Regions from separate parts of the Homo sapiens genome. Here regions 1 and 2 are each linked to region 3. Evidence: fine-mapped expression QTL. A gene starts in region 3. Each other region holds a variant in brackets. All regions are shown on one strand. Distances are from middle to middle. Region 1 overlaps EVI5 (ecotropic viral integration site 5). Region 2 overlaps EVI5 (ecotropic viral integration site 5). Region 3 holds the start of EVI5 (ecotropic viral integration site 5).

The links. PIP is the estimated chance that this variant, and not a neighbour inherited with it, causes the effect.
Region 1: its variant is the best candidate, but not a certain one, in a credible set for the expression of EVI5 in whole blood (INTERVAL, PIP 0.54).
Region 2: its variant is the best candidate, but not a certain one, in a credible set for the expression of EVI5 in whole blood (INTERVAL, PIP 0.59).

What each region holds. Positions count from the first base shown.
Region 1 is chr1:92,667,829-92,672,068 of GRCh38, forward strand. The region is part of intron 10 of EVI5 (ecotropic viral integration site 5); the gene reads right to left. Among named protein-coding and RNA genes, the nearest start is that of EVI5, 120 kb to the right of the region's middle. The variant C/T (reference allele first, on the strand shown) is at 1,689.
Region 2 is chr1:92,719,807-92,724,046 of GRCh38, forward strand. All of the region lies in intron 2 of EVI5 (ecotropic viral integration site 5), which reads right to left. Among named protein-coding and RNA genes, the nearest start is that of EVI5, 63 kb to the right of the region's middle. RefSeq lists an enhancer at 3,971-4,240. The variant T/C (reference allele first, on the strand shown) is at 2,590.
Region 3 is chr1:92,782,668-92,786,907 of GRCh38, forward strand. EVI5 (ecotropic viral integration site 5) reads right to left here and starts at 2,441. Exons shown (of 20, transcript NM_001350197.2): 1 at 2,169-2,441. RefSeq lists a silencer at 2,022-2,291 and an enhancer at 2,562-2,841.

The DNA of each region.
Region 1 (4,240 bases), 110 kb before region 3:
ATGGTCTTGATCTCCTGACCTCATGATCCGCCCGCCTCAGCCTCCCAAAATGCTGGGATTACAGGCATAAGCCTCTGTGCCCGGCCTCAAGGTGATAACTTACTTTTTTGTACCAATTTGTTCCAGAACTCAATCAAGGGCCTTCTTCCAGCCCCACCTTCCTATAAATTTCTGCTAAAAAATGTCTGTCTCAGAAAATTCTTCCATCAATTCAACCTATTATTTTGCCAGTAAAGACTTAAATATGGCTTTATATAACATATAAAGTATTAGTTCAGGGAAATGAGAGACTCTATGAATTACTGCATCTTATTAAAGTGGATCACAAATTGAAACAAATCTTAGAGTTATTACAAAGATACTTGGCAAATTAGATTTCTTGTTCTATTCACTAAAATTCAGATGATCTGAAATAGACATTATGATATACAGGAAAGTTAATAACTAATCTCAGACAAAATAACAGCTTGAGAAGTAGAAAATGTTCTTATGTCTTGGCTCCTCCTACTGTGTGCAGCATAGTAGTCTACACAAATAAGCAATTATTAAATGCTGCTAAAGTCTAGAGAGCCAAAGAAATAAATGGGATTCTCAAAATGTTCTCAATCATATTTCATCAACAAAAGGTAATGTTTTATCTTAAAAGATTTAGAAAACTAAGTTCCCACCAGACAACTGAGTGAATAAAGTTATGACAGAAATCATGCTAAAATAAAATTTAGAACTGAAAACACTCATCTGGATTTCCTTCCCCAACCCCTTTTACGGCTTCTGAAATCTATTTCATTATAAATAAAAATCTAAATTGATTTTCTCCCACAAACAACTAACCAAATGCTTAACACCATTTAAAAAATAAATCACCACTTCCTCATTTGTATAATATTTACATCAGGAATTGATCAATAGACTTTTTCAGTTAATACAGACCATTTCAGGGTTACTTTTACGTTTCAAGTGTTACTGTCTTCTTTTTTTAAAACTAATATCACAGTATTTTGGTAATTATAGCTTTGCTATCTGTTTTAATACCTAGTAGAGCTAATATCCCCTGTTCTTACATTTGTTTATTGTTCCCAAACCCCAAATACTAGTATACTAAAGTAGCTAAGAGACTAGGTTTTGAAGTTAGGCAGATTTAAGTTCAAATTCTCATTCTACAATTAACACTTGCACATGACATTCAATGTTTTAGAATCTCCATTTCCTCATCCAGAAATTAAGAGTAATCAAACCTACAGGGAACTGAAAAATTAAATGAGATAGCATAGCACCTAATATATGCCAAATACTCAGTTAATGATAAGCACTGCCCACAATAGTTTTGAAGTTAGGCATGAATATTATTTTACTACTTTTGTCTATTTTTAGAATTATTCTTAAGATTTTTTTATTGCCCTGGAATTTTACAAGGAATTAAATTTCACTGAATTTGAGGGCCAGGTACAATGGTTTACAGCTGTAATCCCAGAACTTTGGGAGGCCAAGGCAGGTGGATCACTTGAGGCCAGAAGTTCGAGACCAGCCAGGCCAACATGGCAAAACCCCATCTCTACTAAAAATACAAAAATCAGCCTGGCATGGTGGCGCATGCCTGTAATCCCAGCTACTTAGGAGGCTGAGGCAGGAGAATCACTTGAATCCAGGAGGTGAAGGTTGCAGTGAGCCAAGACCATGCCACTGCACTC[C/T]GGCCTGGGCAACGGAGCAAGGCTCTGTCTCAAAAAAAAAAAAAATCACTGGGAAATTCATATCTTTATATAACATGGAGCTATTTTTGTCTATCTTTAGTTATCTTTTTAAAATGTCTGTGTGTAAAGTTTTCCAGTGTTTGTTAGGTCCTATTCTATTTTTCATTTAGGTTACTCCTAGATATACTTTTATTTTTATTTCAAATGGAACTTCTTCCAGTATATTTTTGAACTGTTTATTGACGATACATAGAAAGGTTAATAACTAAAATCTACCACCTGATTGATTCTCAATAATTCTTCAATATCTTCCTCACATTTTCTAGAATAGAGTGCTTCCTAAACTTTAAAGTGAAAACCACAGAGAGGAAGATACCTAGATATAGCTACATACAAATGTTTATCTTGTACATTGAAAAAGAAAATAGAGACAATTTTTTGACCTACCAAATTAGAAAAAAAAGAGACTAAAAGTGAGAGCAAGAATGAAATACTTAGTGTTGGCAAAGTAGTCATTAAATGGAAACTTGTTGCTAAGACAAACATACCCTGGACACATTCTTTAGGAAATTTACGTATTATACATCAAAAGTCTTTAAAATGCTAATATCTTGTAACTTATTAATTCTACTTTTTATAACTGGCTATGGAAATAATAATAGGAGACAAAAAACTTGTTATATACAAAGATGTTAACCATTAGCATTATTTTTAATAAGAAAAACTGAAAACAACCTTATATCCTGAAATAGGATAATCTCATTTCAAATAACCCACTCTTCAATCACTATTTCCTATTCTTTCCAGCTTACTCAGTTTACAAAGTAACCCAACCCCAACAATTGTTTTCACTGAGACAGTCTAGTGATCCCAACAACTTTTCACTGTCCCTCAATCCTTGATGTTCTCTATTCCTTCTTGACAAAGTTTAATTTGCAATCATTATACGGCTCCCTTGCTTTTAAGCCCCCTTGCCCTTCTCTCCCTTCGTAGTATAACTGCCTGGAAAAAACACTACTCTGGATCAACTATCTGACAATTTTGAGTCTGTACCTATGCCAGTAAATATGACTGAACAAAAACAAAACCATGACGTTTATTTAAATTACTGATCACTAAATTCAATATGGTTCTTAGCAATAATAATGTCCTTCTTCTATCCCCCTAGGTCACTATTTCATACCTATTCCTCTTTCTTCAAACCAGCAACCCTCCAATCCATTGTCTCTCAGTTGATAATCTGGCATATGATTTCACTGAAAAAAACTGAGGCAATTAGAAGAGAATTTCACAAGCTCCCAAAACCACATCCTACATCCTACCTGCATTTTTGCCCATATATTTTGATTTCTTGTTATTGTGTATTAACTACTCATGCTAGCATACTAAGTTACATCTCCTAACTTCGCACTAAATTCCGTATCTTCCTGACTCCAGTGATTATCCCCCATTCTTAATGATAAATTTTTCCTACTTGATTATCACCATAAAAGCATGCAGTTATTTCTCCTATCTTAAAAAAAAAACAGAAAACAGAAACAAAAAATTCAACATAATTACCCTCTCTAGCTACTGTCCCATTTCTTTTATCCTTATAGTAAATTCCTTGAAAAATATCTCTAATTTTTCTTCTTCTATTCCAGTTAGGTTTTAGTACCTACCATTCTGCTCCACTCGTTTCTAGGATAAATTATAATCATGCTGGAAAATGCAATGGTCATTTCTCCATCCTCATTTCACAAAAACTCTTCAGTATTTGACATGGTAAATCCTTCTCTCTTTCTCACTGTCTCTTGGCTTCTGGGAACTACACCTACCTGGTTTTCTCCTAGTTTGCTACTTTCTACTTGTCTTCCTCATCTTTAAATGTTGGTTTATTCTCAGGCTCAATTCTTGAATTCTTCTCTATTTTATCTACAATCCTTTCCCAAGTAATCTCACCCATTCTCATGGCTTTCAATACTATGACCCCGCCAATAACTACCAAATTTATATTTTGAGCTTGGCTTCTTTTAATTTCAGATCTGAATATTTAAGAAGCTAACTGGACATCTCCTAGGCATCTCATTCCCAAGATACCCAAAATTGGGCTCCTGGTATCCCCACTAAACCAAATCCTTCTGGAGTCTTTCCCATCTCAGGTAATGGGAACACCATTTATCTACCTGCTCAGACCACAAGGCTTGGTTCCTCCTCCTCACACATCTCTACATTCTAGCTGTCCACTTTATATTTGAAATCTATTCAGAATCCAATTACTTCTTACCTCAGTCCAAGCCACCATCATCTTTTTTTTTTTTTTTTAAGACAGGATTTCACTCTGTCACCCAGGAAGGAATGCAGTGGCATGATCACAGCTCACTGCAGCCTCAAATTCCCTGGTTCTAGTGATCCTCCTTCCTCCGCCTCCTGAGTAGCTAGGACTACAGGCATGCACCACCATGCCTGGCAATTTGAAAAAAAAAATTTGTGGAGACAGGGGCCCACTATGTTGCCCAGGCTGGTCTTGAACTCCTGGGCTCAAGGAATCCGCCCACCTTGGCCTCCCTAAG
Region 2 (4,240 bases), 63 kb before region 3:
CAGCCCAAAATCTCCTTAAGCTGATAAGCAACTTCATACAAAATCAATGTGCAAAAATCACAAGCATTCTTATAAACCAATAACAGACAGCCAAATTATGAGCAAACTCCCATTCACAATTGCTACAAATAGAATAAAACACCTAGGAATCCAATTTACAAGGGATGTGAAGGACCTCTTCAAGGAGAACTACAAACCACTGCTCAACAAAATAAAAGAGGACACAAACAAATGGAAGAACATTCCATGCTCATGAATAGGAAGAATCAATACTGTGAAAATGGCCATACTGCCCAAAGTAATTTATAGATTCAATGCTATCCCCATGAAGCTACAATTGACTTTCTTCACAGAATTGGAAAAAACTACTTTAAAGTTCATATGGAACCAAAAAAGAGCCCACATTGCCGAAACAATCCTAAGCAAAAAGAACAAAGCTGGAAGCATCATGCCACCTGACTTCAAACTACACTACAAGGCTACAGTAACCAAAACAGCATGGTACTGGTATCAAAACAGAGATATAGACCAATAGAACAGAACAGAGGCCTCAGAAATAACACCGCACATCTACAACCATCTGCTCTTTGACAAACCTGACAAAAACAAAAAATGGGGAAAGGATTCCCTATTTAATAAATGATGCTGGGAAAACTGGCTAGCCATATGTAGAAAGCTGAAACTGGATCCCTTCCTTACACCTTATACAAAAAGTAATTCAAGATGGATTAAAGACTTAAATGTTAGACCTGAACCATAAAAACCCTAGAAGAAAACCTAAGCAATACCATTCAGGACACAGGCATGGGCAAGGACTTCATGACTAAAACACCAAAAGCAATGGCAACAAAAGCCAAAATTAACAAATGGGATCTAATTAAACTAAAGAGCTTCTGCACAGCAAAAGAAACTACCATCAGAGTGAACAGGCAACCTACAGAATGGGAAAAAATCTTTGCAATCTACCCAACTGACAAAGGGCTAATATCTAAAATCTACAAAGAACTTAAACAAATTTACAAGAAAAAAACAAACAACCCCATCAAAAAATGGGCAAAGGTTATAAACAGACACTTCTCAAAAGAAGACATTTATGCAGCATACAAATGAAAAAATGCTCATCATCACTGGTCATCAGAGAAATGCAAATCAAAACCACAATGAGATACCATACCATCTCAAGCCAGTTAGAATGGCAATCATTAAAAAGTCAGGAAACAACAGATGCTGGAGAGGATGTGGAGAAATAGGAATGCTTTTACACTGTTGGTGGGAGTGTAAATTAGTTCAACCATTGTGGAAGACAGTGTGGCAATTCCTCAAGCATCTAGAACTAGAAATACCACTTGACTCAGTGATCCCATTACTGGGTATATACCCAAAGGATTATAAATCATGCTACTATAAAGATACATGCACACGTATGTTTATTGCGGCACTATTCACAATAGCAAAAACTTGGAACCAACCCAAATGTCCATCAATGATAGACTGGATTAAGAAAATGTGGCACATATATACCATGGAATACTATGCAGCCATAAAAAAGGATGAGTTCATGTACTTTGTAGGGACATGGATAAAGCTGGAAACCATCATTCTGAGCAAACTATCATAAGGACTGAAAACCAAACACTGTATGTTCTCACTCATAGGTGGGAATTGAACAATGAAAACACTTGGACACAGGGAGGGAAACATCACACCCTGGTGCCTGTCAAGGGGTGGAGGGCTGGGGGAGGGATAGCATTAGGAGAAATACCTAATGTAAACGATGAGTTAATGGGTGCAGCAAACCAACATGGCACATGTATACCTATATAACAAACCTGTACGTTGTGCACATGTACCCTAGAACTTAAAGTATAACAATAATTTTTTTTAAAACTCCAGTAATTATTCCTTAGTTGTCAACATATATATTAAACACATCTGGTATTCTGGGGTAAATTGTGAATTGTATGGGAATAAGCAATTCATCTACAACCACACCTTACCTACAACAATTTTAATATAACGCTTTGTGTATTTTAGTTGCACAGTAATTACTGATCACAACCGTAAAAATAAATTCAACTTTGGTCACTTACAAAATCTATACCAGAAGTTATCTTTACTGGAAACTACTTCATCCTTGTATATAATAACCAACTGAACACTTAAAAATCCTTTATACCCTTTAGCACTGTCTGTAAGTGCTTTACTTTGTCAGTCCTGCCCCAACTTCATGTCCCACTATTTTAATTACTTAAAATTATATTTTATGCTGACAAATACAAATTGTATATATTTATCATGTACCACATGGCTAAATCAAGCTAATTCACATACTCATTACCTCTCATACTTTTTTTTGTGGTAAGAACACAAAAGCTACTCTCTTAGCAATTTTCAGGAATATAATATACTGTTATTAACAATAGTAACTGTATTATACTATAGATCTCTTGAACTTATTCCTCTTATCTAACTGATATTTCATATCCTTTGATCAATATCTTTTTTTTAAATTTTATTATTATTAGACTTTTAAGTTTTAGGGTACATGTGCACAACGTGCAGGTTTGTTATATATGTATACATGAGCCA[T/C]GTTGGTGTGCTGCACCCATTACCTCGTCATTTAGCATTAGGTATATCTCCTAATGCTATCCTTCCCCCCTCCCCCCACCCCACAACCGTCCCCAGTGTGTGATGTTCCCCTTCCTGTGTCCATGTGTTCTCACTGTTCAATTCTCACCTATGAGTGAGAACATGCAGTGTTTGGTTTTCCCACTATTTTTCTATCACATATCTCCTTTTGCTCTATTTAATAGTCCCTTTCATTTCCTTTTCTGAGAACCTATTTGCTCATAACAGCCCTCACACAACCTAACACTCCACTTTGATCTTTCAAGATCCTCTTCTAATTTCATCTTATCCAAGAAACTTTCAGAATCTACATATTATTTTAAAAGACTATCTCTTCCCAAAACTTCTGACCAGAGGATTTGCTCAAAATCTTTCAAATGTAGTAAACAAAGGGGTAAAAAGTTAAAACCAAAACACATATACACACACTAAACCCACAAAAAGTTATGTGGCACACCCAGCTTTCTACCTTACCCACTGAGTGCTGAGAGCCAAAGAAAACCTTTAAAAGGGCTTCCTAAGAAATGATAAGAAAGCAGTATTTTCTATCACCAGGTTTGCATGAGTTGATATTAGGTCCTATTCCTGGGGCTCAATTAAGCCAGACTCAAAATCTATAGTTCCTAATCCTGTTCCCTGTGAATTTCCTTCAAGCTACTGTTGTCTGTCTCCATCTCAATAGGAAGGGACCAAGTCTGAGGACAGGTCTATTTAAAGTAAAAATAATCTCAGCAGTAAAATTATAAAATTACTTCAATAATTACCTCAGCAGTACATTTTTTTAAAGCTAAGCAGAAGTAACATTCACAATATATTTATACATGATATTAAGTCCAATATCTAATTGTCAAATAATATAAATCAATTTTTCTAATTCTATTCAGACTTCTTCCCATGCTGTTGCGGGAAGTCAGGGACCCTGAACGGAGGGACCGGCTGGAGCCAAGGCAGAAGAAGATAAATTGTGAAGATTTCATGGACATTTATCAGTTCCCAAAATTAATACTTTGATAATTTCTTACACCTGTCTTTACTGCAATCTCTGAACATAAATTATGAAGATTTCATGGACATTTATCACTTCTCCAATCAATACTCTTATAATTTCTTAGGCATGTCTTTACTTTAATCTCTTAATCCTGTTATCTTCGTAAACTGAGAATATACGTCACCTCAGGATCACTATTGTACAAATTGATTGTAAAATATGTGTGTTTGAACAATAGAAAATCAGTGCACCCTGAAAAAGAACAGAATAACAGCGATTTTCAGGGAACAAGGGAAGATAACCATAAGGTCTGACTGCTTGCGGGGTCGAGCAGAACAGAGCCATATTTTTCTTCTTGCAGAAAGTGAGTAGCAGAAATATCGCTGAATTATTTTCCCAGCAAGGAATAACCCTGGGGAAGGAATGCAATTCCTGTGGGTAGGTCTATGAACGGCTGCTCTGGGAATGTCTGTCTTACGCGGTTGAGATAAGGACTGAAATACGCCCTGGTCTCCTGCAGTACCCTCAGACTTACTAGGATTGGGAAATTCCAGCCTGTTAAATTCTAGTCAGACTGGTTGTCTGCTCTCGAACCCTGTTTCCTGTTAAGATGTTTATCAAGAC
Region 3 (4,240 bases):
AAATGTTCAACAATTTCTAATACTAGAGTTTTATCACCCACGTACCTATAAAACCAACAATGCCACTCCTACGTACATACTCCAATCTAGTAATGTCCTATTTCTTGATCTTTGGTGGTTCACTTAGTAAAAATTCATTACCTGCGATGTTTTTTGTTTTTGTTTTTTTTGAAAGACGGTCTCACTCTGCCGCTCAGGCTGGAGTGCAGTGGCATGATCAAGGCTCACTGCAACTTCGACCTCCCCGGCTTTGGTGATCCTCCCACCTCAGCCTCCTGGGTAGCTCGGACTACCAGCGCACACAACCACACCCAGCTAATTTTTGTATTTTTAGTAGAAAATGGGGTTTTGCCACGTTGCCCTGGCTGGTCTCAAACTCCTGGGCTCAAGTGATCCACCTGCCTCTGCCTCCCAAAATGCTAGGATCACATGCGTGAGCCACCGCACCCAGACCACCTGCACATTTAGAATTGTGAACTTTTTCTCTATACTTCAATAACTTAGTTCTAAGATTTATTTGACACAAAGTTCTCGGAAATCGTAGTTATCATTTTAGAACAGAAAAAAGACCACCTGGGCCAGGTGCGCTGGCTCACGCCTGTAATCCCAGCACTTTCGAAGGCCGAGGCGGGCAGATCATTTGAGGTCAGGAGTTCGAGACCAGCCTGACCAACACGGTGAAACCCCGTTTCTACTAAAAATACAAAAAAAAAAAAATTAGCCGGGCGTGGTGATGTACGCCTGTAATCCCAGCTACTCGGGAGGCTGAGGCAGGAGAATATATCCAGCCTAGGCAACAGAGTGAGACTCAGCCTTAAAAAAAAAAAAAAAAAAAAAAAAGAAAAGAAAAGAAAAGAAAAAGAAGGCCGGGCACGGTGGCTCACGCCTGTAACCCCAACACTTTGGGAGGCTGAGGCGGGTGGAACACGAGGTCAAGAGATCAAGACCATCGTGGCCAACATGGTGAAACCTCATCTCTACTAAAAATACAAAAATTAGCTGGGAGTGGTGGCGCGCGCCTGTAGTCCCAGCTACTCGCGGGGCTGAGGCAGGAGAATTGCTTAAACGCAGGAGGTGGAGGTTGCAGTGAACCAACGTCGCCACTGCACTCCAGTCTGGCGACAGAGCGAGACTCCCTGTCAAAAAAAAAAAAAAAAAAGAAAAGAAAAGAAAAAGAAAAAGAGCTTCTGGTACACTGGTGAAATTCTACTAACAAAATTTTAAAACAAAAAAAGTTACTTACATCAGCTCAGAACAAAGATTAAAAACTACCAGCAGATCACTTTTCTTTAACTTCAGTAAGCACTGGAATTCATTCTTTCGGCAAAGAAAGGAGTTTATTATTCAACACTGTAACCCAAAGAAAAGATACCACTTCAAGAAAATACTTCTTTTCGAAAGCAGCTCTACCAGCAATAGATAGGAGGAAAGCGAGGAAACCATTCCAAAAGGCTTGGTTTAACTCTTGGGTGAAAGGATGCCAAATGAGATGATCTAAGAAGCCCCAAAGACAGACAGACAGACAGACACAGGGAAATCACAGCAACTCTTTTGAGTGGAAACACCAACACCACAATCCAACCTACCGGAAATCCTGAGGTTAATTTGAGGCTTGCCCCACTAGTCATAAGGTGATTCAGGAATGGCTACAAACTCTTCTCAAGTTCATTCTGGACCTGGCACATCTGTCTTGCCCATCAGCAGCCTGGAGACACGCCATGCGCAGAATCCCGGAGGCCAAGTAAAGACGCCAACTTTGCAAGTCAGGGGGGCGAGTGCTCTCGCCCCTCAGGTCCCCAAAGGGAACCGACTTCTGGCCTCGAGGGTGGGGTGCAGGGTCAGTGTCCTCCACGGGATTTACGAGGACGTGCCCCCGAAGCTGCTCCGTCCCTCCACCGCCCTGGGACGCCACAGTTAGACCCGCCGACGAGTTTCTTCCCCAGCGCCCACGAGAAGGAGGGCTGCGGGCGGCGGCGGCGGCGACAGGCGAGGAAGCGAGTGCAGGGAACTTAGGCCCTGGCGGGGCCAGGCGCGCCCGCCCCGCTCCCACAGCAAAACTTGCGGCGGCCCCCGCCCGCCGCGCCTCGGCCCAGCTGTGCGCCAGCGGAACACGGACTCACCGCCCGCCCGGCCTCCCGGCCCGCCCGGCCTGGCGCAGCGCCCCTCACCTTGGAAACGTTGAGTAGACTTCGCCGTAAACATTAACTTCCCATCCAGCCGGCAGCCGCGCCGCCGCGTCTCAGCGCCTCGGCCCCGCTCCTGGCTCCACGGGTCGCCCGTCCCGAGTTCCCAAAAGCACCACGCTCACTCAGAAGCTCAGGGCCGCCTCGCGACCCTCACCTACCCCTCCCGGCACCGCCGCTGTCGGAACTGCAGCCAGCCCCTTGCCAGCTGGCCAGCTGGTTCCTCCGGGGTCCGGCCCGGCCGCGTCAGGAGAGCCCAAGGCGCAGGCGCGGGAGGGCCTTAAAGAGACCCGGCAGCCTCTACCGCAGAATGGGTTGGAGCAGGTTAGGGGCCGGGCGGGCCGGCCGAGAAAAGGAGAAGGCGAAGGGATTGGACGGAGTGCAGAGGAGGCGGGGAAATCGCTCTCGCCCTCCGCCTCTCTTTCAAAGCACCAGCCTTCAGTCCTGCAAGTCGCCGACTTCCCCGGCCACTGGAACCGCCCCTTCCATGTTAAAACGGTAGAAGACACACCCCCTCGGGGGCCCGAAGCGACCCCGAGCTTAGGACTGCAGGCCTCGCGCTGCCGCACCGACGCGGAGCCTGACTTTCAGGGCCCTGGCACGCGGTGCTGACGCGCATGCTTCGGAAGGCAGCCCCGAGCTCCCCCAGAGGTGGCCTTAGGGCACTCGCAAAAACAATAATCAACGCGTAAATGACACTTGTAATTGTAATGTACTCTTACACGTGTCTTCGCATTGGGTTTATGCAGACTACTGCAGGGGGCAGAACATGGGCACGAATACGTAAGATTCAGCCGGGCAGCCCTCCAGCGTCAACGAAGACATTCTTAGAAGGAAAGTACTTTGTTTGGGACGGAAACAGCCTATTAATTTCTGGTCCAGGAAAAGCAGGCAAGAAAAAGTAAAAAGGCAATACAGATTACTTTCATTATATGTTTAGAAGTGACAGCCGGGCGCGGTGGCTCACACCTGTAATCCCAACACTTTGGGAGGCCGAGGCGGGCGGATTGCCTGAGGTCAGGAGTTGGAGACCAATCTGGCCAACATGGTGAAACCCCGTCTCTACTAAAAATACAAAAAAAAAAAATAGCCCGGCGTCGTGGCGTGCGCCTGTACTCCCAGCCAAGCTACTCTGGAGGCTGAGGCAGGGGAATTGCTTGAACCACGGAGGTGGAGGTTGCAGTGAGCCAAGATCGCGCCACTGCACTCCAGCCTGGGCGACAGAACGATACTCTGTCTCAAAAAAAAAAAGGGACAAAAATTATAATAATTAGCAGCACAAGAAACTCCGGAATTATTTGTCTAGAAATTAGTATCCCTATTTTTAAATTTAAATTTATAAGACAGAATTCGCAGATGGGTTTCCACTGAACTAAGCATTTCAGAAAAAAAAAAAAAAAAAAACCTTACTTTTTTTTCAACAAGATTAGGAAATACCAAGAAATAGGAAGTAAAGCCATGCCCTCCACCCAGCTAAAAACTTTGAAAACTTGAACTTTTATCTGAGGCATATGTTTGCATAACTTTAGGTTGTGCCATTATTTAAAGAAATTTCAATTAACAATTTTATTGCAACTCAATCCTTGTATAAGAAAACTAAGCTACATCCTTGATAATGTACCTCTCCCCTCTTATATTCCATCCGTCAGCAAATTCTATTGGTTTTTCCCTTACAAATGGTCCTTGAATCTGTCCTCTCCTATTTCCTCCATCACCACCCTAGTCTAGGCTACCTTCACCTGGGGAGTGGGGGTGGAGGGATTACTGACCTAGTCTTCTTGTGGTTTACCCATATTCCCTTTATCCCCTCTCTAATCTCAACACAACAGGCAGAGTGACTTTTTCAAAATAACAGTGTGACCCTGTCACTTCCCAGCCTAAACCACTTAAACACTTTCCCATTCTCTTAGAAAAAACCCTCCTAACTAACCAAGCCCTGAATGGCCAGGTGCCTTGCCCACCTCTCCACCTCTTCTCACTGCTCAGACCAATTCCACCCTGCTGTCTGTGCTCCAGCCACGCTAGCCTCTTTTATTCCCTATTTACCGGCTTCCTGG